3 separate regions of the Homo sapiens genome follow, and regions 2 and 3 are each linked to region 1. The links come from fine-mapping of genetic effects on gene expression. A gene starts in region 1. Each other region holds a variant in brackets. All regions are shown on one strand. Distances are from middle to middle.

Region 1 (10,594 bases):
AAAAAAAGAGAAAAAGATAGTGGTGGTGATGGTTGCACAACATCATTATGAATACAGTAAAAAAAATTCAATTGTACATTTTAAAATGTTAAATTTTGTTATGTGAATTTTATTTCAAAGAAAAAAAATTTTTTTGGACCAGCCTGAGCAACATAGTGAAACACCATCTCTACGAAAATACAAAAAGTTAGCTGGGTGTGGTGGCAGGCGCCTGTAGTCCCAACTACTCGGGAGGCTGAGGCAGTAGAACTGCTTGAACCTGGGAGGTAGAGGTTGCAGTGAGCAGAGATCGTGCCACTGCACTCTAGCCTGGGTGACAGAGCGAGACTCTGTCTCAAAGAAAAAAACCTCTAAAAGCAAAAACAGTTAAAAGCGGTTACTTCAGGCAGGGCACGGTGGCTCATGCCTCTAATCCCAGCACTTTGGGAGGCCGAGGGTGGTGGATCACGAGGGCAGAGGAGGTCGAGACCATCCTGGCCAACACGGTGAAGCCCCGACTCTACTAAAAATGCAAAAATTAGCCAGGTGTGGTGGTGGTCGCCTGTAGTCCCAGCTACTCAAGAGGCTGAGGCATGAGAATCGCTTGAACCTGGGAGGGAGAGGTTGCAGTGAGCCGAAATCGCACCACTGCCCTCCAGCCTGGGCGACAGAGCGAGACTCCATCTCAAAAAAAAAAAAAAAAAAAAAAAAAAAAAGTGGTTACTTCAATGGAGGGAGCACGTACTTTCACTCAGTTCATACCATCATGTTGATTTTTTTTAAAACCATGTGTAAGTTATTATAACTTAAAAACTCCTACGTATGCCATCTGCCATGGCTGCCGGAGCTATTCTTCTTCTTTGAGAACGCCCCCAATGTTGAGGTGTGGATAACAGTCACGATTGTCCTACCTAACTCTGTGCCATGGCCACAGATGACTGATCCCTGAGTGAATGGATTCCTGACTCCATGTTGTGCCAATCAGATTTTCTATGCCTGAAAATAAAGATGCTAGCTAGCGTGGGTTGGAACCGAGAACAAGTAAATTTGGGAGACATGGAGTAGAGAAAGAGAAAGTGTGCAGAGATTAATGTATCCCAAGAGAAGAAATACTGAGTTGCTTGGATTCCTGCTAGCTTTCCAGTTCCTGATTCCACTCAGTCTCTTCGAATACCCAACCACTTCCCCTGTTCTTGGGTTTTATAGCCTTAATATAAATTAACTTTTTTCAGTGGCCTACCAAGGACAGAGTGGTAGAAGAGGTCCAAGCTGGGTACAGACAATAAGGGCACAGATTGTCTGTTTAGATTCATGGTGATAATAAAAAGCAGACCAACTAACTTTTAGTTCATTTTATTATTGCTTTAAATTCTCTAAAATGCTAGTGATAAAATAGTCTGCTCTGCCCCTCTTCACCCAACCCTGCTCTTTTTTGCATGAGCTAGTCTAGTTCTGTTAGATACAACCAAAGAAGCTTAAATATAACGAGAATAATGATCTTGGTCTAACCAATAGTTGAAGGGAAAACAGCTAAAGAGGCTGGGCGCAGCAGCTCACACCTGAGATCTCAGCACTCTGGGAGGCCAAGTGGGGGCAGATCACTTGAGGCCAGGAGTTCAAGACCAGCCTGGCCAACATGGCAAAACCCTGTCTCTATTAAAAATAGAAAAATTAGCCAGGCATGGTGGTGCACACTTTTAATCCCAGCTACTCGAGAGGCTGAGGCATGAGAATGGCTTGAACCCAGAAGGCGGAGGTTGCAGTGAGCCGAGATCACGCCACTGCACTCCACCCTGGGCAACAGAGCAAGACACTGACTCCAGAAAAAAAGAAAAGAAAAATTTTGAGATTTGTGATCTCACTAGCCATTTCAATTAACAACATTTCTGATTAATCAGTCTTTTCACTGCTTTTGTTCAACAAGTGTCCACTGAGCACTTTCAATGTACAAGGCAAATTCTAAGAAATTAGGATACAGTGGTGAATAATGCAGATACAGGGGCCCTGAATTCGCGGGGTCAAAATCCAGCAAAGGAACTTCCGAAACAAGGAATTTCAACAATGCACTTTACACACTATTTTTCAAAGACATATATAATAGGATCCTGCAGTAACATGGAGCAGGGGTACCCTACTTTGGTACCTAACTTAAGTTCCCAAAGGAAAAGTAAGACTTAGCCAGAAAAGTGGACATGGGATGGGAGGGGGAATCAGGCACAAGAAATCAGCAGATGCAAAAAGGCCTAGACACAGGTTCAAAATTAAAGAACTGAAAAAAGGTTCAGTGCGGCTGGGATGGAGTATGAGGAGGGGGTACGCAGTGATAAAGTCTCAGAGCAAGGCAAGGGTGGAGCCAACAAGGGCCTCATAAACCACTTTAAAAGTCCTGGATCAGATAGTAAGGGTAACAAGAAGTCACTGAAGGACTTGGTTCCAGTATGGCAGGTGGAAGAGAAGCAAGACTGGAGGCAAGAAACCAGTTAGAGGGCTGTTCCAGCGTCCAGGAAAGAGACTACGATGGCTTTAATTTTGACAGTAGCATTGGAGATGAGGGTCTGGGTCGGGCGCGGTGGCTCACGCCTATAATCCCAGCACTTTGAGAGGCCGAGGCAGGCAGATCACCTGTTCGAGACCAGCCTTGCTAACATGGTGAAATCCTGTCTCTACTAAAAATACAAAAATTAGCGGCTCGGTGTGGTGGCTCACGCCTACAATCCCAGCACTTTGGGAGGCCAAGGTGGGCGGATCACTAGGTCAGGAGTTCAAGACCAGCCTGGCCAACATGGTGAAACCCTGTCTTTACTAAAAATACAAAAATTAGCTGGGCATGGTGGCATGCACCTGTAATCCCAGCTACTCAGGGGGCTGAGGCAGGAGAATCACTTGAACCCAAGAGGCAGAGGCTGCAGTGAGCCAAGATTGTAACACTGCGCCCTAGCCTGAGTGACAGAGCAAGACTCAGTCTCAAAAAAAAAAAAATTAGCTGGGCATGGTGGCAGGCACTTGTAATCCCAGCTACTCCAGAGGCTGAGGCAGAATTGCTTGAACCTGGGAGGAGGAGGTTGCAGTGAGCCGAGATCACACTGTTGCACTCCAGCCTGGGTGACAAGAACGAAACTCCATCTCAAAAACAAAAAAAGCAAAAACAAAAACAAAACCCCTAGAACGGATAAGATACAGTGACCAAATTCAGATCCTGAAAGAGAGTCAGTGAGTAGCTGGTTATCCAAAAAAACTAGCATCACATACTAAAAAGCGGTGTCCTCTAGATCAGTGCTGTACAGAGAACTTCCTGATGTTAGGAATATGCTAGATCTGTGCTAATATAATAGCCCCTATCCACATGTAGCTACTGAGCACTTGAAATGTGCTAACACCGAGGAGGTGAATTTTTAATTTTGTGTAATTTTAATTAATTTACATTTAAATAGCCACACATGGCTACTGCCCTGGACAGCACACTCTAGATTATTGTGACACCTAACTTAAAATATATGACAGGGTTAATAAGTTTATACAATACTATATGACAAGGACAGTAAGAAAGGGAAAAATTCAGGCTGCTGGATGCAGTGGCTCACGCCTGTAATCCCAGCACTTTGAGAGGCCGAGGCGGGCGGATCACGAGGTCAAGAGATCTAGACCATCCTGGCCAACACTGTGAAACCCCGTCTCTACTAAAAATACAAAAATTAGCCGGGCGTGGTGGCGCGGGCCTATAGTCTCAGCTACTCCGGAGGCTGGGGCAGGAGAATCGCTTCAACCCAGGAGGCGGAGGTTGCAGTGAGCCGAGATTGCGCTACTGCACTCCAGCCTGGGTGACAGTGCGAGACTGTCTCAAAAAAAAAAAATGCATATTTCAAAATAAAATACACAACAAAACTTAACTTTTCAGTTTAAAAAAACTGTCTAAATATATGCAGAGAAAATAAACTACACAACCACGAACCAGTGGTTATCTTGAAGGTGAAGGATCTTCAAAGATCTTTCCTTTTCTGCTATATGTTGCTGAACTGCTTTTTTCTTTCTGTACAATGCATATGCATTACCTATCTGGGGGGAAAACAATTTCCTACTAAACCAAAAAGTGCCTATAAGTTATCACACAAACATACTTGTAATGCTGTTATAATAAAGATATGCAATACAATCACAGTGATACGAAAATATAGCAACAGCTTCTACGAACACATTATGACTTTTCTATAAGACACAACGTACACGGGAACAAGACATTCTGGGGAGAAACACATCAAGAAACTTCTCAGGTTCCCACAACAATCCACATAATTTATAAAATACTCTGAAGCTATTATTTTATATCTAAGTTACATCCTTCCTGTACTATGATGAGATGTGTCCCTTAGGATCATACATTTAGAAGACAAAATTTGACACAAATACATTCAAATCTCTATCAAATATGAAATCATCTCATTTATCCAGCAAAATCAGAGTATGGGGTATTTCTAATAAATAAACTTTCTAATATTAGTAACTGAAATTTAACCCTTTAAGCACCAAACCTTTTTACTTTGGAGGGATTTTTCCTAAAAAGTATCTATGCATCTGCACCCTCTTAAACCAATGCTACAATTGAATCTTCACTTGACATTTTGGGGCCATTGTGTTGACCATCGATTATCATTTCTAGAATTCTTATGAACATAAATTACTAGGATTTAGTGGAGAAATATATGCCCCTTCCTCAAAGCACCCTTGACTGCTATATAGTGAATTTTTTTTTTTTTCAAGTATGAAGGTAGTTTTAAATTTCTTCATCAGGCTGTCAGTGTTCACTGGCTAAGTTCGGACGTCTATCCAGGCTTTTTTCTAATATAATGCCATTAGTTACAGCCTGGGAAGCCAGGTAACTAAACTAATTAGAATTACAGGTAAATTAATAAGGACTTCCTGAGTAAGCACTAGAGGCCCTCCTATAAGAAATACCATACATTGTTTGCCGTCGATTTTGGCTGCTGAGGATGATTTAGCTTCCCACTGCCTTTTCTCTCTAGTACCCCAAGATGTTTTTTTCAATGAGCTAAGGCCGCTCTACAACTCTAAGTTAACTCCAGACAAGTCAGGTGTTGCCATCTACAGTGATTTCTAGCTGGATCTGACTCCGCCACTCATTACGTGTAAAAAGACACTGGGGAATGGAACGGTTGTCAAAATGCCCAGTTAACGACAACAAATATAAACTTTTCTTCGTATACCCTTCGCAGTAAAGTAGCAACAGCAATCGCAACCAAAATTTACTAAGCTCGCCTGCAGGATTCTCAGCCCTGTGTACAAACTCAAGTAGCTCAATATTTCTTGCTGGCTCTGGCACAGGAGCAGATCCAGACTAGATGGGTTCTAAAGTCATCCCAACAGGAAAACTAAGCTATGAACATTAAATCTTATCTCTGAAAGAGAGAATGAGGGTAGCACAGGAGTTAGAACCAACTTCTGTGCAAGCGAGCACTCCCCGACGCACCGGAAGTTTTGAAATATCCTGTGGGCTTCCCACAGGCAAAGTGGTTTTCCCTCCCCGCGGCTCTGCGGGCCCTCCCCAGGGTTCGAGGACCTCCGAGTTTGCTGCGCCCGGGGCCGGGGCCCTGGCCCTGCCACAGGCTGGGAGCGAGGCCGTCAATCACAGCCCGCGAATCACAGCCCGCGCCCCACGACTTCACCTTGGCGGCTCCCAAGCTGCGACTCGGGCAGGTGGGAGGTACCTGCGGCCCGGCTCCTGCCCCTGCCTGCTGCGACCGGGGGAGAGGCTGTCCCAGCTGGGGCCGGTGCAGGCCCCGGGGCCCCGTCTCGGGCCACGCGAGCCCTCGAGATGGTACCGCGTGGGGGCCGCGCGGCGGGGCCCTGCCCCGGGGCCCGGCAAACTCGGCTGCCCGCCCGGCCCGCCCCCCGGCGCCGCCACTCACCGAAGAATCCCTGCACGATTCCCAGCGGGTGGCTGAGCCAATCCTCCCCACACGGCATCTCGCCAGGGGCCGGGGCCGGCGAAGACCGGGCGGAGGCGATCCGCGGGCCGAGCGCGGCCGGGCGGCCGGCGCCCAGCTCCTCTTCAGCGGCTCGGCCGCTCCTCGCCCGCGTTCGCTCGCGCCCTCCCACGCACAGCGAGCCGCGGGGCGCGGGCCTCCCGCGCCTCAGGGAGCGGCGGCTGCGGTGGGGCCGCCGAGGAGCTGCTGGCGACAGTCAGGCGGGCGCGTACGGGCCCCTAGCCTTCACTTCGCACAATGGCGGGAAATAGCCGCCGCCGACCGCGCTGCCTGCGACCTGGGTGGAGCTCGCGTGGGGAGGGGCGGCGGGAGCGCGCGGCGCAGCGCGGCTCTGCGCGGCGAGGAGGAGGGGCGGCGGCGGCGCCGCCATCTTGGAGACGGGCAAAAGGAAGGGCACGCAGCGCCGCTGGAGGCTGCGCAGCGCGGGGCCCGGCGACGCGCTCCAAGGGCGGCGCGTTGTCGTTTGTACCCCTGGGCCGGCGTGTAGCGGGAACTCCCATAGTGGGCTTATAAGAGGGCAAAGCGAGTCTGCACAACAGCTGAAAAGCATTAAGCTCAGAGACCTCAGAGTCATCTCTGGGCAAAATTAGTGGGCGAAACCGCCTTGGGAATCCGCCCACCTCCTCTTCGTGCCTTTTTTTTCTTTTTTTGCTGATGGCAGCACTTTTATTTGGGTCCCCGGCCCGAAACCCTGAGTGGTGACTTTTCCCTCAGCTGCACAAGGTCTCCCTGAGGAAGGTGCACATTTAGAGAAGGGGAACCTCGGAGGACCCCACGCTCCTTCTGCAGTCGCGTCAGGCCCTGTGGCTCAGGGACGGTTCCTTACCGAGGGGCGGGCGCTCTAAACGCTCCGGGCCCGGCCTGCGCCCTGGTTGCGAACACCGGGTCGGCGTCTGTCTGGAAGCTGGCAGCCGCCGTCGGGGAGCGGTGCGAGGCTCCTGCACTGCGCGCCGCTAGGATACCCTGGAGAAGGAAGCTACGAAGACCGACTACAGCAGCCTTTTGCTGAGGCAATTTGGAAAATACCCAAGTTCAAGAGTGAAACTGTGGGAGTCGCTCTGAACCTCTTCTGGTTCAGGAGGCTGTCCGATAAAAAAGAAAAAAAGAATGAAACTGTGTCTCCCCTGGGCCTGAAATGTACCTAAGAAAACCCCAGGCCCATCAGATATATCTACTCAATGAAAAAAGGGCATGGTGACGGAAGGGGAATGACCTGAATGGAATCTACAAAGTGAGGAGCTGAAGGAAAAAAACGGAACCCGTGTCTCAAACCCTCCTTGGGGCTGTAGGAAGGGGGGAAAATCTTTCTACCTTTCTAGGTTCTCCACTGCGGCCCTTATCACAAAGCTCGGATTGGCAAAAGAAAAATTTAGTAACATGTACATCTTATATGGGCAAAACTCAAGGAAGAGTAACTCAAACAGGTGGCTTAGAATGGGGGAATTACGTAGCATTTACAATAAAGAACAATAACTGGGGAGAAATGGCGAAAGCAGTTTGAAGTTTCCAAAAACAGCAGAGTGGGAAGGCAGAGATACGAGAAACTAATGGTAGTTACAGGTAGTGAGTAAAGTGTGTTATGTAGGTTCTTCTAGCGCCATCGCTGGCTGATAAGGGTCTAAAGTTGTCTCTGGTGACTAACTTTTGTCCCTGGTAGAAAGAGGAGGTGGGACACCTTTGAAAATGTATGTCCTGCTCTTAGGTACATAGTGGAAGGGTAGGGAGCTTGTTTTGTACAGATGCTCCTCTACTTACTCTACTTAGGATGGAGTTACATCCCAATAAACCCATTGTAAATTGAAAATATCATTAGTTGAGGCCCAGCGTGGAGCCTCACTCCTGTAATCCCAATACTCTGGGAGGCCAAGGCGGGCGGATCATGAGGTCAAGAAATGGAGACCATCCTGGCCAACATGGTGAATCCCCATCTCTACTAAAAATACAAAAATTAGCTGGGCCTGGTGGCGCACGCCTGTAGTCCCAGCTACTCTGGAGGCTGAGGCAGGAGAATCACTTGAACCCGGGAGGCGGAGGTTGCAGTGAGCCAAGATCATGCCACTGCACTCCGGCCTGGTGACAGAGCGAGACTCCGTCTCAAAAAAATAAAATGTCATTAGTTGAAAATGTGTTTAATACACGGAACCTATCAAACATCAGTAGGCTACTGCAAACATGCTCAGAACACTTACATTAGCCTACGGTTGGGCAAAAGCATCTAACACAAAGCCCGTTTTATAATAAAATGTTGAATATCTCATGCAATTTATTGAATACTGTACTGAAATTTAAAAACAGAATGGCTGTGTGGGTAATTGAAGTATGGTTTCTACTGAATGGGTGTTGCTTTCACACCATCATAAAGTCAAAAAATCTTGTCAAACCACCGTTAAGTTGGGGACTGTCTGGATCTACTTTTCAGTTACCAAGATAATAATATTATAATTAAATTAATAATATGAAAATAATCCTTATGCCAAAGTGGCACATTTTGGGGTGACATTCTGGTTTACTTCAGGGCAAAAACGAATAGTTTGTATTTCTTAGTGTAAGGTAATTAATTGACACACTCAATTGTACATCTGGTTCCTGTGAGTTTGGGTACGTTGAGAAAACTTGAGTTTCAAATCCAGGTCATTACCACCATTCCATTCATTCATTTAAGAGACAGGGTTGCCAAGACCCTGGCATCAAAAGGGGAAATCCCATATTTTCGCTTCATGGCCAGTAACAGGCAAATTAAATGTATGATATGGAAATGTCTGCTCTTAAATCCCTGTAAATTCAAATTTACTTTATCTAAATTGCAGCTTGATACCAATTCAGCAGTGGCTAGTGTAAGGGAGGAAAAATATCTTTTCCGTCTACCCTTCTAGATTCTACGTTGGACCCCCTGTAACAAAAGATAGATTAACAAGAGAAAAGCATGCACTTTATTTCATACACGTTTTACAAGAAATGGGAGCCTTCATAAGGAAATGAAGATCCAAAGAAGCGTTAAAACCAAGTGTTTTTATGCTAGGTTTGATGAAGAGAGTCATAGAAGAATGTGATAGGACAAAGGTTGTGAGCTAAGTCCAGCAAACTAGGGGAAATTTAGCAAGGCCTGTGCATTAGATTCCTTTCCGTGTCCCTTCATCTTTAAGATAGGATGCTCCTGTCCTCCAGGAAGAGGGAGGGCAGCTCTCATGTCAGGGTCTTATAATCTGCTTCAGGGGAAGGCCAGGGAGCCTTTCCTGCATGTGCTATTTCTCAAATTCCTTCAGCTTAAAATACTTAATATGCCAAGGTGCCATATTTTGGGGTAGCAAGTCGTGAATCCCATCTCTGTGAAAACTTCTTTTGGTTTCTTCCTTGGTAGAGTATTTAGTGATTTATAAAAAAAAAATTGCTCGGATTTTACTTAAGGAGACACTGTGATCCTTCTGAAATGTAATTATTTTATAATGTGAATAATTTAACCCTCTGATTTTTCTGTGGCAAGACGTTTTGATACTAAGTAGTTATGGAGCTGGGGGAGGTAGTGTGCACTTGTAGTCTCAGATACTTGGGAGACTGAGGTGGGAGGATCACTTGAGCCCAGGAGTTCGAGGTTACAGTGAACTATGATCGCACCACTGCACTCCAGCCTGGGAGACAGAGGAACACTCCATTTCTAAAAATAATAACAATGACAATAATAATAAGTAGTCATGAAAATGTAAAAGGCCAGGGGAGTGTTCATGAAGGTCTGTTTCTATGGCAAGATTTCTTTTTTCCCACTATCAGTAACCACACTTCTGCCCCGACCGCGAGCCTGTATTTTTATGGAGGGCATTAAGTAACTCTGTCTATAAAAAATTACTGAGAGAGCAGCCAGGCGCGGTGGCTCACGCCTGTAATCCCAGCACTTTAGGAGGCCGAGGCGGGCGGATCACGAAGTCAGGAGATCGAGACCATCCTGGCTAACATGGTGAAACCCCGTCTCTACTAAAAAAAAATACAAAAAATTAGCTGGGCGTGGTGGCACGTGCTGGTAGTCCCAGATACTTGGGAGGCTGAGGCGGGAGAATTGGGGGAACCCTGGGGGTGGAGGTTGCATTGAGCCGAGAGCGTGCCACTGCACTCTAGCCTGGGCGACAGAGTGAAACTACGTCTCAAAAACAAACAAAAAAACAAAAACAAACAAAAAAATTACTGAGAGAGCACTGGAAATATGGGGTGAAAAAAGAGATTCCATCTCTGCCCTCATGGAACATACAGTCTAGCAGAAGACTTATTACTAATTACTCACGAGAGGTGCTAGGCAAGAATAGATGAATATTTATAAGAGGAATAAACAGATGTGTATATGTTCTAGTGAGGGAATGCTAAGGGTTGAATGTGTCCCCCAGAGTTTGGGTGTTGGAAACTTAATCCCCAATGCAACAGTGTTGAGAGGTAGGAACTTTAAGGGGCAGGGGCAGGGCCCTTATGAAGGGATTAATGTCACTATTGCAGGAGTGGGTTGGTTATAAAAGTGAGTTTGGCTCTTTCTTCCGCGTGTGTGCAGGCACGCACAGACACACACTCACACACATGCGTGCTCTTGCTTATGCTCTTTCACCTTCTCTCACCCTTTTTCCCTTTGCCTTATGATG
Region 2 (10,594 bases), 190 kb before region 1:
GTTCGGACCGACCCAGCCAACAGCCAAGGTGCCAGTTAGGTAGCATGTCTGCCCACCTGTCCTCAGGCCTCACCAAGAAGCTGAGATTGTCCAAAAGTGCCCAGAGGGCCTGGCGCAATGGCTCACACCTGTTATCCCAGCACTTTGGGAGGCCAAGGCAGGAGGATCCCTTGAGGCCAGGAGTTTGAGACCAGCCTGGGCAACATAGCAAGACCCTGTCTCTACAAAAAACAAATCAGCCAGGTGGTGGCATGCGTCTTCAGTCCCAAGCTACCAGGGATGCTGAGACGTGAAGATAGTTTAAGTCCAAGAGATGAGGCTGCCGTGAGCTGTGATCCCGCCACTGCACTCCAACCTGGGCAACAGAGTTGAGACCCTGTCTCTAAAAATTAAAAAAGGAAGCGCACAGGGAAGCCAGCTCCCACTATTGCCCAAGGCTGGCCAAAGTGTTCCTTGGAGTCTAGGTCACTGGGGGTTGGAAATGTGCTCTGAGAATCTTGGGGTCATCTTTATTAACACCTTGTGAGTCACCAAACCAAACTGAGACCAGATTTATCTTCCTGGATTGGGTTCCTAGAAGCCTCTGGAGTTAGGGACGAGATACACTCAGGCCTGGGTAGAAGGAGATTCTTCTTGCTGTGCCAGTGGCTTTTTTTTTTTTTTTTTAACCTTGGGAGGGACCACAGCCCCACAGCATGGAGATGTGCTGGATTTGTTTATTTTTTATTTTTATTTTATTTATTTATTTAACTACTTGCCAAATAAAGTGAAAAGAGAAAGGCCTGAGACCTTGGAACTCTCAGTGAAGTGCTGACTTAAGAGCCCCCGAGCTGAATTTCTCATGACTGTATTGAGTTTAATACTGGTGCCTGACGATGCTGCACAAAAATACACCCTGGTGTGCTTGCCACTGTTAGCCTGCTGAGGAAGGCTGAAGTCATTCCCATGGGAATCTGCCAACATCATTCCTGGGTGAACTCATTTGGGGAGTACAAGCCGACATGCCACTGATTCTAGAAACTCGAACATGTAAATAGGAAAAAAAAAAAAAAATACTAGACTATTTTAAAAATGAACCAGGCTGGGTGCAGTGGCTCATTCCCGTAATCCCAGCACTTTGGGAGGCCGAGGCGGGTGGATTACTTGAGGTCAAGAGTTCGAGACCAGCCTGGCAAACATGGTGAAACCCCACCTCTACTAAAAATACAAAAATTAGCCGGGCGTGGTGGCATGCACCTATACTCCCAGCTACTTGGGAGGCTGAGGCACGAGAATTGTTTGTACCTGGGAGGCAGATGTTGCAATGAGCCGAGATCACGCCACTATACTGCAGCCTGAGCAACAGAGTGAGACTCGATCTCAAAAAAAAAAAAAAAAAGAACCAAAGATGATGTGACCACTTCTCTTTGGGACTCAATGGACCTCATACGACGTTAAGCCTCCTTGAGTGGTTACTGGATTAGGTTGATAGTATTTTTATCACTAAACATCATCAAATAAGTAGCTGTTTAATGTGGTTGGAATATTTTCAATCATCCAAATGAGACATGCTGTGGGCATCAGGACGGGAGTTATCTGGCCTGTGTTGGTGGCCCCTGGGCCTTGTGTGGGGAGCAGGGCATAGAGCTAGCTGTACGCTCTTGGTGACACAACTGTCTTGGCCCCTGTAGGCATTGGGGGGCTACAGCCACTGAGCATCTACCGAGTGTCAGGGCTATTTCCTGCGATGCCTGCTCAGGCCCTCTCTATCTGCTTTTCCAAATCTTCCGACTCCATTTTTTTTTTTTTTTTTTTTTTGAGATGGAGTCTTACTCTGTCGCCCAGGCTGGAGTGCAGTGATGCAATCTCAGCTCACTGAAACCTCTGCCTCCCGGGTTCAAGCGATTGTCCTGTCTCAGCCTCCCGAGCAGCCGGGATTATAGGTGTGCGTCACCCCGGCTAATTTTTGTATTTTTTAGTAGAGATGGTTTTTTGCCATGTTGGCCAGGCTAGGCTAGTCTTGAACTCCTGACCTCAAGTGATCTGCCCACCTCGGCCTCCCAAGTGCTGGGATTACAGCTGTGAGCCACCATGCCCAGCCTCCAGATCTTCCCACTCTGAGGCCCACCTTGGGTTGAAACTTTCCCCACCTGGACCACGCATTCCTTCTCAGACTCTCCCTTCCCAAAGCTCCTAGCACCCTTCTGTGCATTTGCCAAAACCCAGTTGTTTTCTCAACATCCTGAGTCATTTCCTCAGCAAGACAGAATCCCCGGAGGGGTGGCAGGTTCATTCCGACACTTCCTTCTTCCCACATTGTTGTCCAGACCTGGGCACAGAAGCACCCTGGATGGTCAGGGAGTGCTTAAAAGTCCCTTCCACTTAAGATGTTAGGATTCTAAGGCTAAATTGATGTTCCTGCACAAATAAATACCTCTTTAGGAGCTGTGAGTTGAGGGCCAACTCTTTCACCAACTTTCATAATTCCCAGATATGTAATTTATTTAAGTTAATTTATGTAAGTAATTTCCTCTCTCTGTGCCCTTTGCTCTCATCTGTGAAAGGAGGGCCTTGCCCAAGGGCCCTCTTGGTGATCTGGATGTTTCTGGCAGGTCTGCACTTGGCTACTGTTGTGGTCTCTGCCTTGGTATTTCTCCCTTAGCAGCCTAGCCAGGAAGCATAGCGTGGAGCTCCATTATGGGCTGTGCGGTCCTGCAAGCCCCTGTGTGAGTGTGGCTGGCCGGCCTGCCCACTGTCTGTAACATTATACAAATGTAATCGAATGCCAACGGACAGGATCCAGGGTTGCAGTTATTTTGGGATGTGCAGGAGCCTGTGGGAAAACGCTGGAACATGTCTTAGTCACTTGGGCAAATACCTTTCTTTCCCTGTTCCAGCGTGTTTTGAACTTTCAGGCAGCACAAAAAAAGCTCCAGCAGGCACACCCACCCTTGGTGATTCCGGTGCCCTTACACATCCTGTGGCTCTGAAAAGTGTGAGTGCAGAGGGCTGAGAGCGGGGCTGGGGAAGCCCTAGACACCCACCTATGGAAAAAATTGTAGCGCTTCCCTCAATACGTAATTCAAAATAAAAACAACAAAAGAAACGTAAGGAAGATGTGCAATTCCCACTTTATACTTTGTTGCTTCCTAAAAATTGTAAAATTTCCTCCACTCATGCGTATGTGCGCTTGGCCAGGTCCCTGCCTTCCTGGTACTCTGTTGTCCAGCACTACCCAGTAAGAACCACTGGAGACCAGGAAGAGCTCCATCAGTCCCCGCGGAGCATCTGAGCAGGTGAGGAGGTACAGGACCACAACAGAGGGCAGCAGAAGCCAGCAATGGTGCCATCCTGCGCTTGGTGGAAGGGATGAGGAGGCAGCCACAGGTCCTC[T/C]CGATGGACAGTGTTGCCCCCGCACCTCACACGTGGGCCCAGAGTTCCTGGTGCAACTAGAAGCCAGCCTGAAGGTGTGAAGGGAGTTGGAAAAAGCATTCCAGATGGAAAGGGTCTTTTTCTAAAACATTTTCTTGCCTGTCCTTGCCTTCTCTAGCCAGAGCTTTGCCCTAGGATCTGGCCGGCTGCATGGAGGCTGAGGAAGTTCTCCTCTAGTTTGAAGAGGGGAAATCCTTCTGCCAGCCCCTCACTCACTGTCTTCCACTTCATCTCTTTCTCTCTCCAATGGCTCTTTTCTTGTCCTTAGCCTACAGAAAACACAAACCAAAAAGAAATGCTTCCTCCTCACTTTACCCCCTGCCCCCACTTTTCTTTTTCTTTTTCTTTTTGAGACAGAGTATTGCTCTGTTGCCCAGGCTGGAGTGAAGTAGTGCAATTTTGGCTCACTGCAACCTCTGCTTCCGAAGTTCAAGCAGTTCTCCCACCTCAGCCTCCCGAGTAGCTGGAATTACAGACATGTGCCACACACCCAGCTAAATTAAAAAAAAAAAATCTATTTTTAGTAGAGAAGGGGTTTCACCATGTTGGCCAGGCTGGTCTTGAACTCCTGACCTCAAGTGATCCACCTGCTTTGGCTTCCCAAAGTGCTGGGATTACAGTCATGAGCCATCGTGCCCGGGTCACCACCCCCAGCTCACCACCCCCACTTTCTGATCACATGTCGTGGAAGAGCCAGCTAAGTCCCCTCACCTCCCACGTCCTGATCCACCTACAGCCATCCATTCCTGCACCCACCCCTACCGAAACCACTTCTGTGGGCACACTGTCACTGGTGTTATGCAATGTCTCCAGCTCTCCTCCCCAGCAGGCTCTGACTCACCCTCTTCCCTTGCCCTCTCTTCAACATCAAGGTCTCCAGGGTTCCTTCTTCAACCACCGCTCTTCCCACCATGTGAGGGTGTTTCAGGCGGCACCTTGGCTGGACCATAGCACCCAGCTATTTAACTCCAGCACTAGATGCTGCTGAGTAGATATTCTACAGACTTGGTTAACATCTACCATCGGTTGATTTCTCCCGGAGGAGAAGAAATTCTGCCTCAAGACTACAGCATCTGCCCTGGCTGAGTTTCTAGCCTGCTGCCCTGCCCTGACTTGCCCTGCCCTACAGCTTTCCAACTTGTCTGTCCCCACAATCATGTGAGCCAAATCCTTAAAAAAAAAAAAAATACACACATGGCTGGGTGCGGTGGCTCATGCCTGTAATCCCAGCACTTTGGGAGACTGGGGAGGGTGGATTGCTTGAGCCCAGGAGTTCAAGACAAGCTTGGGAAACATGGCAAAACCCCATCTCTATTTATAATAAAAATTAAACCCACACACACATACACATCCCCACCACACAAGCGCTGTATATGTGTATTTTGTTTCTCTGGCGAACCCTGACTGATGCATACTGTTCACACTCACCGGTTCTCCAGCTTCCTCCTCCCAGACCCCAGTCATCTCTGGGTCTGTTTCTGATACCCTCTTTTTTTCTTTCTTCTTTTTTTTTTTTTTAAAAAAGAGTAGAATTCATATTTTGTTGTCATCCAGATGGCAGTTGGGTTTATAGTCTCCATACTTTATACTTTATGTAAATAAAAATAATTACAAGTTTTAAATAGCCAATGGCTGGTTATGTTTTCAGAAACCATGATTAGACTAATTCATTAATGGTGGCTTCAAGCTTTTCCTTATTAGCTCCAGAAAATTCACCCACTTTTGTCCCTTCTTAAAGAACTGGAAAGGGCCAGGCACGGTGGCTCACACCTGTAATCCCAGCACTTTGGGAGGCTGAGGCGGGTGGATCACCTGAGGTCAGGAGTTCGACACCAGCCTGACCAACATGGAGAAACCCCGTCTCTACTAAAAATACAAAAATTAGCCAGGCCTGGTGGCGCATGCCTATAACCCCAGCTACTCGGGAGGCTGAGGCAGGAGAATCACTTGAACCTGCGAGATGGCGGTTGCTGTGAGCTGAGATTTTGCCATTGCACTCCAGCCTGGGGGACAAGAGGAAAAATCCATCTCAAAAACAAACAAACAAACAAACAACAAAAAAAAACTGGAAGGTTGGCATGCATTTGACTTCACATTCTGAAGCAACATCCTGACAGTCAGCCACATGTACTTCAAAGAATACCATGTTGGAATACTTTTCAGAGAGGGAATGAAAGAAAAGCTTGATCTTTTTGCAAGGCCCATACCACGTGGCTGAGAAGTCAACCATGACAAATTTATCACCTGCAGCCTCCAAGCCTTCCTGAAAAGCAACCTTGCTCTCAATTTGCTTCACCATCTTGGCTGCTAGGGTCTGAGGAGCAGCTGTAAGAACCGATGGAAACGGATCCAAAAGTGCCGGATCGAGCTTGGAGCTCTGGTACCCTCTTTCTCCTGAATGCCAAACTTATCTATGCCTACAGGGCACACAGAAAGGTGAGCATTCAGCTGATATCCTCTAGGAACCTGGAATTCAAATCCTGGGGTCCCCTCAGGGATCCCCCAGCACTGAGTCAGCTCTATCCCAGCACAAGCCTTCCACAAGGTGCGATCCCACAGTTCACAGAGGCCAGCCAGGTGGAGGATTGACAGAGCCAAGCTGTCACAAGTTGGATGTAGTCTGGGGGCAGAGCCAGGGACTGATGCTTGGCCCCACGCAGCAATTGTCATGTGGGGCATTGGTCCAGCGTTACAAGAGATTTCCAATTTTCCAGAAAGACCAGAAATTTGTTCCTGTGAAATCTCTCAATTTTTAATTTTTTTTTTTAAGATGGAATTTCACTCTTATTGCCCAGGTTGGAGTGCAGTGGCGCAATCTCTGCTCACAGCAACCTCCACCTCCCTGGTTCAAGTGATTCTCCCATCTTAACCTCCCAAGTAGCTGGGATTACAGGCACCCGACACCATGCCCGGCTAATGTTTGTAATTTTAGTAGAGACCAGGTTTCACCACGTTGCCCAGGCTGGTGTCGAACTCCTGACCTCAGATGATCTGCCTGCCTTGGCCTCCCAATGTGCCGGGATTGCAGGTGTGAGCCCCAGCCTGACAATGAAATTTTCCCATCAAGAGGTATTAAGGGAGGGACAGGCTTCATGAACCCTTTAAAAAAATGTTTATGTCACTTTTCACTCAGGGCAATGAGTGCTTACTTGCCCTACATTTTCATAACCAAAAGAGTACACACAAGACTCTTGTCTAAATGTGACTGTTCTCAGCCAACTCTGTCCACCCTCTGACACTGAAGTAGCTGACATAATTTAAAAATGTCTCCCAAAAGGTGCCCAGTTTCATTAACATTTTTTGGAGATAATTTTGACTAATTATTGGGTCACAAATTTCCTTCAGACAAAAAAAGACAAAAAGGCCCATTATCCCAAATATATACCTTTCAAACCCTTAGGATTTAAAAATACTAAAAACATGGTAACTTCTCCATGTTTGTTTTTTGTTCCTTATATTTCACTCTAACGATCAAGATACAAGAAAATACATAGAGGCGATCGATAGCTACCCTGATTTGATCCTATGCATTTATACATGTATCAAAATATCTTCAGGATAAGAACAACTATAATATATCAATAGAAATTTAAAAATTAAAGAAATTAACAAAAGAGTCTGTGCATGGTGGCTCACGCCGGTAATCTCAGCACTTTGGGAGGCCAAGGCAGGTGGATCACTTGAGGCCAGGAGTTTGAGACCAACCTGGACAACATGGCGAAACCCCGTCTCTACCAAAAATACAAAAAAAATTAGCCGGGCGTCATGGCGCATGCCTGTAATCCCGGCTACTTGGGGGGCTGAGGCTGGAGAATAGCTTGAACCCAGGAAGCAGAGGTTGCAGTGAGCCGAGATCACGCCACTGCACTGCAGCCTGGGCAACATAGACTCTGTCTAAAAAAAAAAAAAAGTAAGAAATTAACAAACAAAAGAAAATATATTGTTTAAAAATAAAATTACATTTCATAATTATTGCACGAACAGATTTAAGGATAAAGTTTCCAGTTAGAATGAAAGAGAGAAGGCATGTGTTTACAAACAAGCACGAGGCCCAAGAATAACTTACTGATTAGTATAAAATGTAAATGGTTGATTTTGCACAAATGCGATTTTTCTTTCTTTCTTTTTTATTTTTTTGTGGTCCACTGGAATGAGAAACTCAAAATCTTTCTTTAGAGCTAAGGCTTTTTTCTTCAATCGACTTCCTCAGGTTGAAAGGAGTTAAGGCTTTACCAAAGCAATTTGAAGGTTTGAAATCTCCAGGGAGATTGATTTATGAGTACAGTACACGTTAAGGCTACCTCTGACCTTGGCAGATTGTGGCTGTTAAATTAGGCCCTGGAGTCCTGAGACAGGGGCTCTTCATCTTAGCCTCCTAGCCTCCTTAGTATCTCACTGTGTGTCAGCAATTCCATGAATCCCATTGGATTCATGAAATTTCATTCATGGAATTGGATTCCTACTCATGGAATTTAATGTAATTCCATTGGATTCATGGAATTCCACTTCAGTTCTGTGATTCTCAGTAATATTTCTTTCTTTTTTTTTTTTTTTTTTTTTTTTGAGACAAGGTTCCTCTCTGTCACCCAGTCTGGAGTGCAGTGGCACGACTTAAGCTCACTGCAACCTCCGTTGGCCTCCCTGGCTCAAGCAATTCTCTTGCCTCAGCTTCCCCAGTAGTTGGGCACCACCATGCCCGGCTACTTTTCGCATTTTTCGGTAGAGAGGGGGGTTTCGCCATTTTGGCCAGGCCGGCCTCGAACTCCTGACCTCAGGTGATCCTCCCACCTCGGCCTCCCAAAGTGCTGGGATTACAGGCGTGAGCCACCGTGCCTGGCCAGTTCTGTGATTCTTTGGAGTGCCATGGCGCCATCTCGGCTCACTGCACCTCCGCCTCCCGGGTTCAAGCGATTCTCCTGCCTCAGCCTCCTGAGTAGCTGGTATACAGGTGTGTGCCACGACGTCAAGCTGATTTTTGTTATTTTACCTGAGACGGGGTTTCACCATATTGGCCAGGCTGGTCTCAAACTCCTGGCCTCAAGTGATCCACCTGCCTCGGCCTCCCAAAGTGCTGGGGCTACAGGTGTGAGCCACCACACCAGGCCTCAGGTCTGAGGTTCCTAATTCAGGACTCACCCGCACTAATTGAAACCTGAGGTGAGGGATTTCTCCTCGCTGACCAGTAGGGGGCGCGTCGTGACTGCGCCTTCTGCTTTCACTCCCCGCGCAGGGAAATCCTGTCCTGCTCTCTCAGGGAGCAGTTCCTGACGGTGGGCTCCATTTTATAATAGAATGACTCACCTGAAGAATCACTTCTTTCATTATTTCGTATTCCTCACAATACCAGTGACACACAAAGGCTTTATTTGAAAAACCAAGTAAAGGAAACGAGCACAGGATGTCTGTGCTGGTCTGGTCGGCGTTTATCTCAGCTGGTGAGAACGCAGCCACGCCTCTGTTCACACTGTCATTCCTCCAATAAATAAGATATCCCTGTTTTCTAAAGTCAGGGAGATTTATGAGTCAGAAGTAATCGGATCCACAATCTGATTAGAATTCTATCCTCATAACGGGAGCTGACCGCATCCGCATCCATTTGTGGTCCGGCCCAGTCACCACTTGGTTGGTGTTCTAGCACTATAAGCCAGACTGTGGGGTGGGGGAAGGTGAGTGCTCCCCGCACTTTAATGCCGGGCTTATTTTTCCCTAAGGACCAGGATCGAAATAATGTTAACAGGAAAAACATGCTTCCTCGTATGAGACTGCAGTATTTCACCTTGTATGAGAAAGGAAAAATGAAGGGTGAGACCTGCTTGTTTCTTACATAACTAGGGAGAAATCCATCCCCCCTCTCACCCCGTAGCTCTTCCTGGTGGCAGTAATGATCAGAACCGGGAGTACCCAACTTCTTTCATGCTTGGGGGACTAGAGCTGCCCCCTCCATGCAGAATGGGCAAAGTAAGGGCAGAGGAGATCCATTAGCATCACAATAGGCCTAAAGCCTGCATTTGAAAGCTTCAAGAAAAGACTGAGAGGCAATCTCTTGCTGTTTCCCCTAAAGGCAGATTGGCAGATCAGTCCTCCTATCCGGAGCAGCTAGAAAAGCTGGCAAAACAAACAAGACCTATCTGAAGGTGAGCCGCCAAGGGGGTGAGGATTTGAGGGTCAAGGTCCTGGAGAGAAGGGTTAGCAGAGCTTTGAATTTTGAGGCATTTGCCTATTTCATGAGGCAGAGAAGCTCCCAGCAGTCTCATGCTAAGGAAGGAAGAGCTCAAGTAGTCGCCGCCAGCTTTCAACTTCCAAAGGGCCTCACCCTTTGGAAGGAACAGGAATGAAAATAGAGAAACTCTCACAAAGACTGAAACCCAGCTTCCCATTGGCTTACCGTTTGACTGTGTTACAGGAAAGGGGTCTTGATCCAGACCACAAGAGAAGGTTCTTGGATCTGGAGCAAGAAGGAATTCAGGGTGAGTCCATAGAGTAAAGTGAAAGCAAGTTTATCAGGAAAGTAAAGGAATAAAAGAATGGCTACCCCATAGGCACAGCAGCCCCGAGGGCTGCCGGTTGCCCATTTTTATGGTTATCTCTTGATGATATGCTAAACAAAGGGTGGATTATTCATGCCTCCCCTTTTGAGACCATATAGGGTAACTTCCTGATGTTGTTATGGCATTTGTAAACTGTCATGGTGCAAGTGGAGTGTGGCAGTGATGACAACCAGAGGTCACTGTTGTCACTATCTTGGCTTTGGTGGGTTTTAGCCGGCTTCTTTACTGCAACCTGGTTTATTAGCAAGGTCTTTATGACCTGTATCTTCTGCTGACCTCCTATCTCATCCCATGACTTAGATTGCCTAACCTTCTAGGAATGCAGCCCAGCAGGTCTCAGCCTTATTTTACGCAGCCCCTACTCAAGATGGAGTTACTTTGGTTCAAACGCCTCTGATAATTGGATTAGGGCAAGCTTTCGCAACCTCAGTGCTATTGACACTGATAAATTGACATTATCAGTGGACCATCCTATGCAATGTTTAGTATTCCTGGCTTTTAACCACTGGATGCCAGTAGCACCTCTCCTTCCCCAAATTCTGACAACCAAACTTTCTCCAGACATTGCCAAATGTCCCCTGGTGGGGAAAATCACCTGTGGTTGAAAACCACTGGATTAAGGGTGCCTGCCCAGA
Region 3 (10,594 bases), 140 kb before region 1:
CTGAGAAGTGAGGAGACCCTCTGCCTGGCAACCACCCCATCTGAGAAGTGAGGAGCCCCTCCACCGGGCAGCTGCCCCGTCTGAGAAGTGAGGAGCCTCTCCGCCCGGCAGCCACCCCATCTGGGAAGTGAGGAGCGTCTCCGCCCGGCAGCCACCCCGTCCGGGAGGGAGGTGGGGGGGGTCAGCCCCCCGCCCGGCCAGCCGCCCCTTCCGGGAGGGAGGTGGGGGGTCAGCCCCCCGCCCGGCCAGCCGCCCCGTCCGGGAGGGAGGTGGGGGGGTCAGCCCCCCGCCCGGCCAGCCGCCCCGTCGGGGAGGGAGGTGGGGGGATCAGGCCCCTGCCCGGCCAGCCGCCCCGTCCGGGAGGGAGGTGGGGGGGTCAGCCCCCTGCCCGGCCAGCCGCCCCGTCTGGGAGGTGAGGAGCGCCTCTGCCCGGCCGCCCCTACTGGGAAGTGAGGAGCCCCTCTGCCCGGCCACCACCCCGTCTGGGAGGTGTGCCCAACAGCTCATTGAGAACGGGCCAGGATGACAATGGCGGCTTTGTGGAATAGAAGGCGGGAAAGGTGGGGAAAAGATTGAGAAATCGGATGGTTGCCGTGTCTGTGTAGAAAGAAGTAGACATGGGAGACTTTTCATTTTGTTCTGCACTAAGAAAAATTCTTCTGCCTTGGGATCCTGTTGATCTGTGACCTTACCCCCAACCCTGTGCTCTCTGAAACATGTGCTGTGTCCACTCAGGGTTAAATGGATTAAGGGCGGTGCAAGATGTGCTTTGTTAAACAGATGCTTGAAGGCAGCATGCTCGTTAAGAGTCATCACCACTCCCTAATCTCAAGTAATCAGGGACACAAACACTGCGGAAGGCCGCAGGGTCCTCTGCCTAGGAAAACCAGAGACCTTTGTTCACTTGTTTATCTGCTGACCTTCCCTCCACTATTGTCCCATGACCCTGCCAAATCCCCCTCTGTGAGAAACACCCAAGAATTATCAATAAAAAAAAAATTAAAAAACAAAAAACAAAAAACAAAGTTAAGCCACCTGGACTGCTGACCTGCAACATTAGCAGCCTCCAGGCAGGCTGGGGGAGGGGGGAATATATTTATATAAATATAAATCTCTTCTTTTGGGAGATTTCTCATAGACAAGACTGAAGAAAGTTATCACAGACAACAAACAAGACTATGGACAAGTAGACAGAAGACAGGAGATGATGTTAAAGTCAAATCTCACCAGAGGATACCAAAATCTAATCCAAAGATCTCAGAGATATTGAAGGGCTAAATCGATAATCACAGTTGGCTTATTTACCATCATTTGTGTAGGTTTAACTACGTGGACACATTTCCTCACATTGATTTCAGCACTGGAAGGGAACACTTAGTGATCATCTCTTTTCATAAATAAGGACCCTGAGATCAAAAGAGATTGAGTGAACTGACCAAAATCACACAGAACTGGCTAGAACCAAACTCCTTAGTGATTATACTTAAATTAGCATATATATGCCATACACGTAAAAGAAGATATATAATATGTATGATGGTCATCTGTGTTTAAAAAGGAGAGCAGCATCACGTGAACTTTCCATTAAAACCTGGGTGGCATCGGGGCAGGAGGACCTTGAATTAGGAAGCTGGAAGAGGGTGATGAGGCTGGCAAGTTAGCCACAGGCCGAGGATAGGCTAGCCAGGGAGTGGAGAGGCTGCAGTGGCCAAGGTTCAGGAAGTTCATAGCAGAAACAAGGCAAGGCAACTGTGGCAGTAGATTGGGGATGTGACATCTACCAGGGACAGAAAATATGTGCTCTTTTCACTCTGCTCAGCCAGGCTAGAGCTGTGCCTACCCCACAGCATGTGTTTGGAGCCTGAGGGAGACAGCAGTGTGCATTGGGGTCAGATAATTACAGAAGCATCTCCCCTCCATGTTTTCCTCTCTCCTAAAGACTTTGCTTGTTAACTCTGCATTTACAGGTAACCAAGCCCATATGATGGCATTAGTTAATGACTGACTGCTGTTTTTTTCCAAGCTGCTGTCAGGCAGATTTTACTAATTAATTTCACTTAAAATAGTGGTGTTCAAGCCTGACTGCATAGTAAAGTCATCTGGGGAGCTTAGAAAAAATAAACAAACTGATGCCAGAGCCCCACCCCAATTAAATTCTGATTTAATTGGTCTAAGGTCCAAGCATTGATATGTTTGAAAAATTCCCCAGGTGATTCTAATAGGCAGCCAGGGTTGGAACCATGGATCTAAAACATCAGGAAAAGTTTCAATGAACTAATTAATTGTTTTAAAACAGTTACAACAGCATTGTTTTCTTCACATCTGGCAATGTAATTCATAAAACAATAATGAAATAATTTGCAGGATACAATGTCTTCATAGGATTTTCTCATTCTCATTTTTGCTAAGTCAACACATGGCTGAATTAAACAATCAATCTGAAACCGATGGTTCCACTGAAGCTTCTTATAGCTTCATTACCTTCTTTCTCCAAATCACATCACAAAGATTTGATAGAGTAACCACCTCCCTCGACCTTTATGTTGAGGTGTCTGGACAGCACAGAGGCATGGTACTTAGAAAAGATTCCAGGACGCTTTGTTATCATTGGACTTTCTGTGCTATGGAAATTCAACACTGTGGGCTGGAATAACTAGTCATGTGGAACTCCTTCCTGCTTTTGTACCCTCTCACTTTTACTTGAGCAGAAGGTTAAAAGTATTGCTTTCTGAGAAGTCCCATTCGGTCACTCCTCTCTCTCGCAAGAGAGACAGCTGTTCTCCCTTTTCTTTTGCCTATAAACTTCCGCTCCTAAACTAAAAAAAAAAAAAAAAAAAGTATTGCCTTATTTTTCTCATCTCCTACTTCTTGTCTTTTTCTCTTGTTTCCGATTCAGGCATTAGAGAAGGCAAGGAGTTAGGAGTAGGAAGACTCAATGATTTATAGAACTGGGGGTGTCATAAAAGGTCATTAGTTCAACCACCATCTGAGACCAAGAGACTTCCCCAAGATCACACAGCTAGATAGTCCTCGAACTGGCCCCGGAAGTGGGGGCCTCATTCTCCAGACCCATTCTGTTCAGGATATCAACTGGTTTTTCAAGACAGACTGAGCTCAAGGATGTTTGGGGGAGACTCCTCCTTCCCCGAGAGGGTCTCCATTCATCTTATCCTCGCCAAACGATATTCCTTCCGCTTGCTTCATTAACTGGCTCCATTTGTGAAGTCTTCTCCAAACCGCCCTGCTTAATTCGGGACACAGCAGCACCTGTACATTCCTCCCTTCCTCCTCGCTCTTTAGCCGCGTGCTGCTAATGCTTGTGTGTTTTCTATTGTTACATGCTTTCCCTCGTTGATGTGCATTTATTGAATGCCTCCTGTTGTCAAACTTCTAATAGGGAATACGAAAACAGAAGACGCCTCCGCTTGGCTGTGGGCCTGGCTGGGGATGAACCCCTGTAGCCAGGCCCCGGGGTCTCGCCTGGTTTCGGTACGGGCAGGCAGCGCAGGCCCGCGGGGAACGTACCCCGCACCGCTCCGGGAGAGCGGGTGTGGGGTTGGATTCAGGTCTCGGCCTGGCGAAGCGTGAGCGCCTCCCTGCACGGAGGGGAGGCCCCAGCGGTGGGCGCCTGTCCCCAAGGCCGCGCGGAGGGAGGCGGTCAGTCCAGACCGACTCGGCCGAGCTCCCGAGCTGCCACCGGTGACCACGACAGGAAGGCTGGCGCGCCGGGGGAGGGGCCTGGGCAAGAGCGGGAGGGGCGGGCGGAAGGACGAGAGGGAGGAGGAAAGACCCGCGGGGAGGAGCTGGGAGGAGACACCCGGGAGAAGGCGGAGGAAAGGGCAGGAAGCGGGAGGGAGCTGAAAGGAGGAGGAGGCTGAGGGGCGGAGCCGGGCGCTCGGGGAGAGTAGCCAGCAGAGGGGGTGGAGCCGGGCCTGGGGCGGAGCCAGGGAAGGGGAGGAGCGGGGGGGAGAGGCCTCTACGGCCGCCGCTGCCGCCGCCGCTGCCGGGGCGCGTTCTCCTCCTACCGGTCGGGTGCCCCGGGGCGTTCCCTCTGCCGCTGCTTCTCGGCGCGGTTCCTACCCGGCCGCTCCCCGAGGCGCGGGCTCTGGCGGCCTCGACCGACTAGGACGCCCCGTGCGCCGCCCGCGGGCCGCCGCCTCCCTGGGCGCGCGGGGCCAGCATGGAGCTCTTCCAAGCCAAGGACCACTACATCCTGCAGCAGGGCGAGCGCGCGCTGTGGTGCAGCCGCCGCGACGGCGGCCTCCAGCTCCGACCCGGTGAGGCTGGCGGTGCGGGCGGGGGGCACCCCGGGCCAGGGCGGGGAGAGGAGGGGGCGCGGCCGGACCCCTCAGCCGGGCGGGAGGAGCCGCCTGCGGGCCTGGTGAGGCGGGGCGGGGCGGGCTGCGAGCGCGCGAGCTGTCATTATTCCCTGACTGGAAGGAGCCTGGCCTTTCTCCGAGACAGCGCCGAGCCCCTACCCCAGTGCGGAGCAGAAGGGGCTGGCGACCCTCGTCCTTCCCACCGCGTCACGCGGCCGCCCTTGGGGCTTGGGGCCCAGGCCGAGGGGAGGGGGTCCCCTCCGGCAGAAAGTTCCAGCAAGGTGCACCTGGCCGTAAAGGCCTCTTCCTCCTTGGAGTAGTTCTTACATGGCCTTCGCCAGAAGTTCTGGGTTCGAATTCCGATCTGGAGCGGTTGCGCCAGTTCCGTCTAGGGCTCTGCTGGACACTCACTCCCTGTTGCCATCCCGTGTGTTCTTGGTCCCTTATTATTAAAGGTGTGACTTTACTGTGGTTACCTCATAGGCACTCGGTTTAAAGCCTTTGTCTTTGACTTTAATACCACAGCACAATTAAATTGTATTGTAATGTATAATTTTGAGATTTTTGTGTGACTTGATGTTGTGCGACACAAAATGTATTGTGGGTCCATGTTTGGGTGTCATGTAAGCTGTTCGGAGAGGCTTAAGTCTGCAATTAGCTTGCTTTAGGAAAATGTGTGTGCAGTCGTGGTTTAAACAGAGCAGTCCCTGCCCTCAGAGCGCTGACAGTCCAGTTTCTTGTAAGATGGGGCTGGGTGGCACCTGCCCCTTTTGGCTTGCTAATCCTTTCCTCATATCACTCAGAGATTCTTCCACTTTAGGGAAAGCGAGAGGATAGAGTTCTTTAAGGAAGGAGCCAGAGCTTTTCAGACTTACTTGTAATTCTTATGTGCAGTCTAGACAGAAGGATTACATGATATGAATTGAAAAGGATAAAAGGTTCAGATGAGCTTTTCAGATCACAGCGTGGTATCACTTATAGGATGGTTTTTAAGGACAGGCCCTTTAACATATTATTTCCAATCCCCACAGCAACCTTACAGGACACGTGTGGGATCCTCTTTTTCAGGTGAGGAGAAAGGAGTGAGAGGTTATTAGTAACTCGTTCGGGGTCACAGCCTAGAGTTGAGACACTGACACAGGGCAGTTCTGTGACCTCCAGAACACTTTTGGGCAGGCCCCACTGCTTTCTTAGGAAGGCCTACTAGTTGCTTTGCCAGAGCAGTGAAGGATAACTTATTTTTTTCCTCAGGCTCTGTCTATATTTTCTTGCTATTACGTTGTATTTCCTCTTTTCAGAATGGAGGATAAACTCCTTGGCCCAGATAAAGTTCTTGATGATCTCGGGATAGAGTTATTATGGATAGGCTAATTTTGGCCAGTCTTCTGTCATTCTCTTCTCTGATTTGACCATTTGTCTGGCTTTCTCCCCTTCCCTCCTTTCACTCCCCCAAATTTGGGTAAGGCTTCAGTACAGCTTGAAGTAAAGCAGATTTCAAAATTCCTAGGTTGTCAAAAGAGTCAACTCCTTGGATTCTAAAAGCTTAGACTATTAGAACTGGATGGGACTTAAGATCGTCTCCAACTCATCTGACAACAAACTTTTCTACACCCCAGTTTCTTGAACTATAAAGGCTAACCTGCGCCTAGATTCTTGGATGAAGCCATGCAGTTTGGATTACTGTTTGTTCAAAGTCCATGTCAGAAGGCAAATTTAAAACTTTTTT[G/T]GGGGAGGAAAGTAGCTATAGCCTTTGCACTTGAGATTGGCATACTTTTTAGAATATAGCGGGCCACAGACCAAGTAGACCAAATGTCTGGAGGAAGGAAGAGGCCATGTTTCAGAAGTAACAGCCAGTTTTGATCTTAAGGTGTTCAGGATAGCCAGGGAATAAAGAATCCCATGCACTTGATTTTCCTATAGTTTATCCTGTCCAGGACTGAAGATCCTTTCTAACTAATGGCTATTTAAGAATGGCATTTTAATTGAATAAGTGCTTTTCAGATCTTTTTCTGTATATGGAATCATTTAAAATTCTCTTTATTTTATTGGACTTTTCCCCTGTGCTTTTATGGCAAGTTTTGCTGCTGTTTGTAGTGACAGCATTTAAAATCTTTCATTGTTTCCTACTGGTTATTTAGCTGAATAGATTACTAAGTCCTTTTCTTTTTTGAAAGGGCAGTATTATAAGCTCAAAAAAGCTTGTGGGCATCGTGGTTTTTACATTCGTGACTATTGAACAACCTGAAACAAGAGTTTTCCTTTTTCTAGAGACATCAGAAGGATAAGTAATGATGATATTTAAGATTAAAATACTCATTTATTTAGCCTGGAATGTTTGTTACTGTCAACCCCTTTTCCTACCTAGTCCATTCCATAAGACCCAGCTCAGATGCTACCCCTCATCCTTGGGGCAGAATTATTGGCCACCTTTATTGTGTTTCCAGGCATTTTCTACACTTAGTGGACACTTCAATTCTAACCCTTATGCATCATCATAATAAAAGTTTGCCTACTTCTTCCCCGGTGGGAAGTCCCAGTGTGTTCCCCAAGGCAAGGGCTGTATTTACTCCTCATCTTGGTGTCTCTAGGCTTTAGAGTACTTAGGACAGAGAAGGCGTTTTTGTTTGAGTTGAGCTGAATTAAAGTTAAGTCTAAGTTCTCTCTCAGTAATATCATTGCCTTAAAAATAAGATGTTGTATTATGTTTGTTGCTCTTTTTAGGCCTGTTTTTTTGGGGGAGGGGGAAAGGGCGGGGCGGGCAGTGGACAGAGTCTTGCTCTGTTGCCCAGGCTGGAGTGCGGTGGCGTGTTCTCGGCTCACTGCAACCTCTGCCTCCTAGGTTCAAGCGATTCTCCTGTTTCAGACTTCTGAGTAGCTGGGACTACAGGTGTGTGCCACCTCACCCAGCTAATTTTTGTATTTTTTGTTAGAGATAGGGTTTCGCCATGTCGGCCAGGCTGGTCTCAAACCCCTGACCTCAGGTGATCTGCCCACCTCGGCCCCCCAAAGTACTGGGATTATAGGCTTGACCCACTGCGCCTGGCCTCTTTTTAGGGCTGTTTTGAATATATTTTAATTGGAGTGGAAAATCTCTGTCCATTTGGATGAGGAAATATGAGGAAAGGTACACCTGCACTTGTGTTATATTTCTATCTGATGTAGCATTATCTCATTATCTTTTTTTTTTTTTTCTGAGACAGGGTCTTGCTCTGTCACCCAGGCTGGAGTGCAGTGGCGTGATCATGGCTTGCTGTAGCCCCTACCTCCCGGCACCAAGCTATTCCTCCCACCTCAGTCCCCCAGGTAGCTGGGACTACATGTGTGTGCTACCACACCTGGCTAATTTTTTTTTTTTTTTTTTTTGGTAGAGATGGAGTCTCACTATATGGCTCAGGCTGATCTTGGCCTCCTGGGCTCAAGCGATCCTCCCACCTTGGCCTCACAAAGTGCTGGAATTATGGGCATGAGCCACCACACTGGGCTTTTAAAATATCTTTTTGGTAGTATTCCTTACTTTCCTCTTTAACATTATTTAAACTTTTTCAGGTTTTTTTTCTCCTAGTTAAAAAACGAAGTATTGTTTTTTTTCTGGTGTTTCTAATTTTTTTAAGGGTAATGAGTAATCTGTATTCATATATAGCAGTTTTTTGATAGATGCTTAGATGCTTATGTCTGTTGTAAGATAATGACTACTACTTCTCTTTTCTTTTTTTTCTTTCTTTTTTGAGACAGAGTTTTGCTCTTGTTGCCCAGGCTGGAGTGCAATGGTGCGATCTCGGCTCACTGCAACCTCCACCTCCCGGGTTCAAGCGATTCTCCTGCCTCAGCCTCCTGAGTAGCTGGGATTATAGGAACCTGTCACCACGCCTGGCAAGTTTTTGTATTTTTACTAGAGACAGGGTTTTGCCATGTTGGCCAGGCTGGTCTCGAACTCCTGACCTCAGGTGATCCACCCTCCCCGGCCTCCCGAAGTGCTGGGATTACAGGCATGAGCCACCGCGCCCGGCCTGGTTATTTTATTTTCTACAGGGAAAGTGATAAAGCACCGTGTAAACATTCAGTAATCTTCTGAGAGTAGAGTCTAATATCTCAGGATAAGAATTGTAATTTGAAGATTCAAAAAGAAATATAATACAATCCACTTTGGGGGAATGCTGATATGGTCTTATCTCTTTGGTCTTAAAATTGCTTCCTCTAGTCCTTGTGGCTTTGTCTGATATGACAGTATTATATAATTTATAGCTGTGTGTAAATTATATAATAATTCACATTCTGTTCTGAGACTGAGCGACCAAGAAGAGATCTCAAAGCATCTGTCATACACATAACATTCATAAACATAGAAACTGTATATGGAAAGGTGATACTCTAAGTGATGAATCCCAGTGAACTTTTTTTTTTTTTTGAGATTGAGTCTCGCTCTGTTGCCAGGCTGGAGTGCAGTGGCGTGATCTTGGCGCACTGCAACCTCTGCCTCCCAGGTTCAAGCAATTCTCCTGCCTCAGCCTCCCGAGTAGCTGGGACTACAGGCACGCGCCACCACGCCCAGCTAATTTTTTGTATTTTTAGTAGAGATGGGGTTTTACCATGTTGGCCAGGATGCTCTCGATCTCTTGACCTCGTGATCCGCCCGCCTCTGCCTCCCAAAGTGCTGGGATTACAGGCATGAGCCACCGCGCCTGGCCTGAACAATTTTTTGAGGGATACTAGGTATTAGTTAGAATTCACAGAAATGTTAAAAATTTTTTCTGTTCTTCTTAGAGTTAATTTTTGATAATGAAATTATTTTTACTATGTCATATGAGGTTAACTTTTTTGAATGAGAAATCATAATTATGGAATTGAAATCCACCTGGAATTTTTTTTTGAGGTATCATTTTTGTGAAATGATTCTGTTTATTTGGAGTTTTGTGGCATTTGGTATTTACTTAAAAAAAAAAAAGGATTTTGAACTTTATCTTTTTAAAAAATTCTGTTTGTAGCTAGGCATGGTGGCTCGCGCCTGTAATCCCAGCACTTTGGAAGGCCGAGGTGGATGGATCACTTGAGGTCAGGAGTTCAAGACCAGCCTAGCCAACATGGTAAAACCCCGTCTCTACTGAAAATACAAAAATTAGCTGGGTGTGGTGGCGGGTGCCTATAATCCCAACTACTCGGGAGGCTAAGCCACAAGAATCGATTGAACCTGGGAGGCAGAGGTTGCAGTGAGCTGAGATGGTGCCACTGTACTCCAGCCTGGGCAACAGAGTGAGACTGTCTCAGAAAAAAATATTGTGTTTACTAAAAATTTGCAAATTACCATGACAGAATTTAATAGGGCACTTTAAATTACATATTAAATGGCTTACAAAATCTTTCTGATCATTTTTGTTGTTGAATAACCAGGTTTTTTCTTAGTGTATTTAGTCTTCAGTTTTTATAATGGGTTACTAGTTTTATATCTTATACTACTTTTTACTCCATATTTTATATTGCTGACAGGCTAACAGTTGGGTTGAATAGATCTGTATGTTTATTTTTATGCATGTACATATTTGTATGACTACGTTTATTTCCCATTTAAAGGTAGAAAAGACTTATCTTTACAAAGTTTTCACCCCACCCATTTTTGGCTTAAATAAAAGAAGACAAGTGGTTTTTTTTTTTTTTTTTTTTTTAGTGTAGACAGCCCAGGCTGGAGTGTGGTGGCATGATCTTGGCCCACTGCAACTGCAACCTCGGCCTCCAGGGTTCAAGCGATTCTTGTGCCGCAGCCTCCTGAGTAGCTGGGACTACAGGCGCCTGCCATCATGCCTGGCTAATTTTTTGTATTTTTAGTAGAGACAGGGTTTCGCCACGTTGGCCACGCTGGTCTTGAACTTCTGAGCTCAGGTATTCTGCCTGCCTCAGCCTCCCAAAGTGCTAGGATTGCAGGCGTGAGCCACCACGCCTGGTAGGAGTACAAAGTCTTTCTAAGGTGACTGACAATTTTTGGAATCAGGTTTTACAGATTGAGGGAGGTTTTTGTGTATATTTTGTTGTCTACATCATCACCTGAGATTAACAGTAGCTAATAATAACAGCTTTTATTTCTTGAGCACTTTTCTTTTTTCTTTTTTCTTTTTTTTTTTTTTTTTGAGACGGAGTTTTATTCTGTTGCCCAGGCTGGAGTACAATGGCATGATCTCGGCTCATTGCAACCTCTGCCTCCCGGGTTCAAGCAGTTCTCTCTGCCTCAGCCTCCTGAGTAGCTGGGACTACAGGCTACTGCCACCATGCCTGGCTAATTTTTCTAT

The links. PIP is the estimated chance that this variant, and not a neighbour inherited with it, causes the effect.
Region 2: its variant is fine-mapped to the expression of MCMBP in whole blood (TOPMed, PIP above 0.99).
Region 3: its variant is fine-mapped to the expression of MCMBP in lung (TOPMed, PIP 0.95).

The regions. Positions count from the first base shown.
Region 1 is chr10:119,866,627-119,877,220 of GRCh38, forward strand. MCMBP (minichromosome maintenance complex binding protein) reads right to left here and starts at 6,217. Exons shown (of 16, transcript NM_001256378.2): 1 at 5,901-6,217. The coding sequence starts at 5,958. RefSeq lists a silencer at 5,672-6,321 and enhancers at 6,552-6,711, 6,577-6,746.
Region 2 is chr10:119,678,059-119,688,652 of GRCh38, forward strand. LOC124902513 (a long non-coding RNA gene) reads right to left here and starts at 4,613. Exons shown (of 2, transcript XR_007062312.1): 1 at 4,253-4,613; 2 at 3,092-3,680. It also overlaps the pseudogene TXNP1. RefSeq lists a silencer at 5,649-5,828 and enhancers at 8,578-9,514, 9,515-10,451. The variant T/C (reference allele first, on the strand shown) is at 3,373.
Region 3 is chr10:119,722,083-119,732,676 of GRCh38, forward strand. It overlaps INPP5F (inositol polyphosphate-5-phosphatase F), which reads left to right and starts at 3,968. Exons shown (of 20, transcript NM_014937.4): 1 at 3,968-4,277. The coding sequence starts at 4,181. RefSeq lists enhancers at 1-164, 2,967-3,016 and a silencer at 3,627-4,396. The variant G/T (reference allele first, on the strand shown) is at 6,046.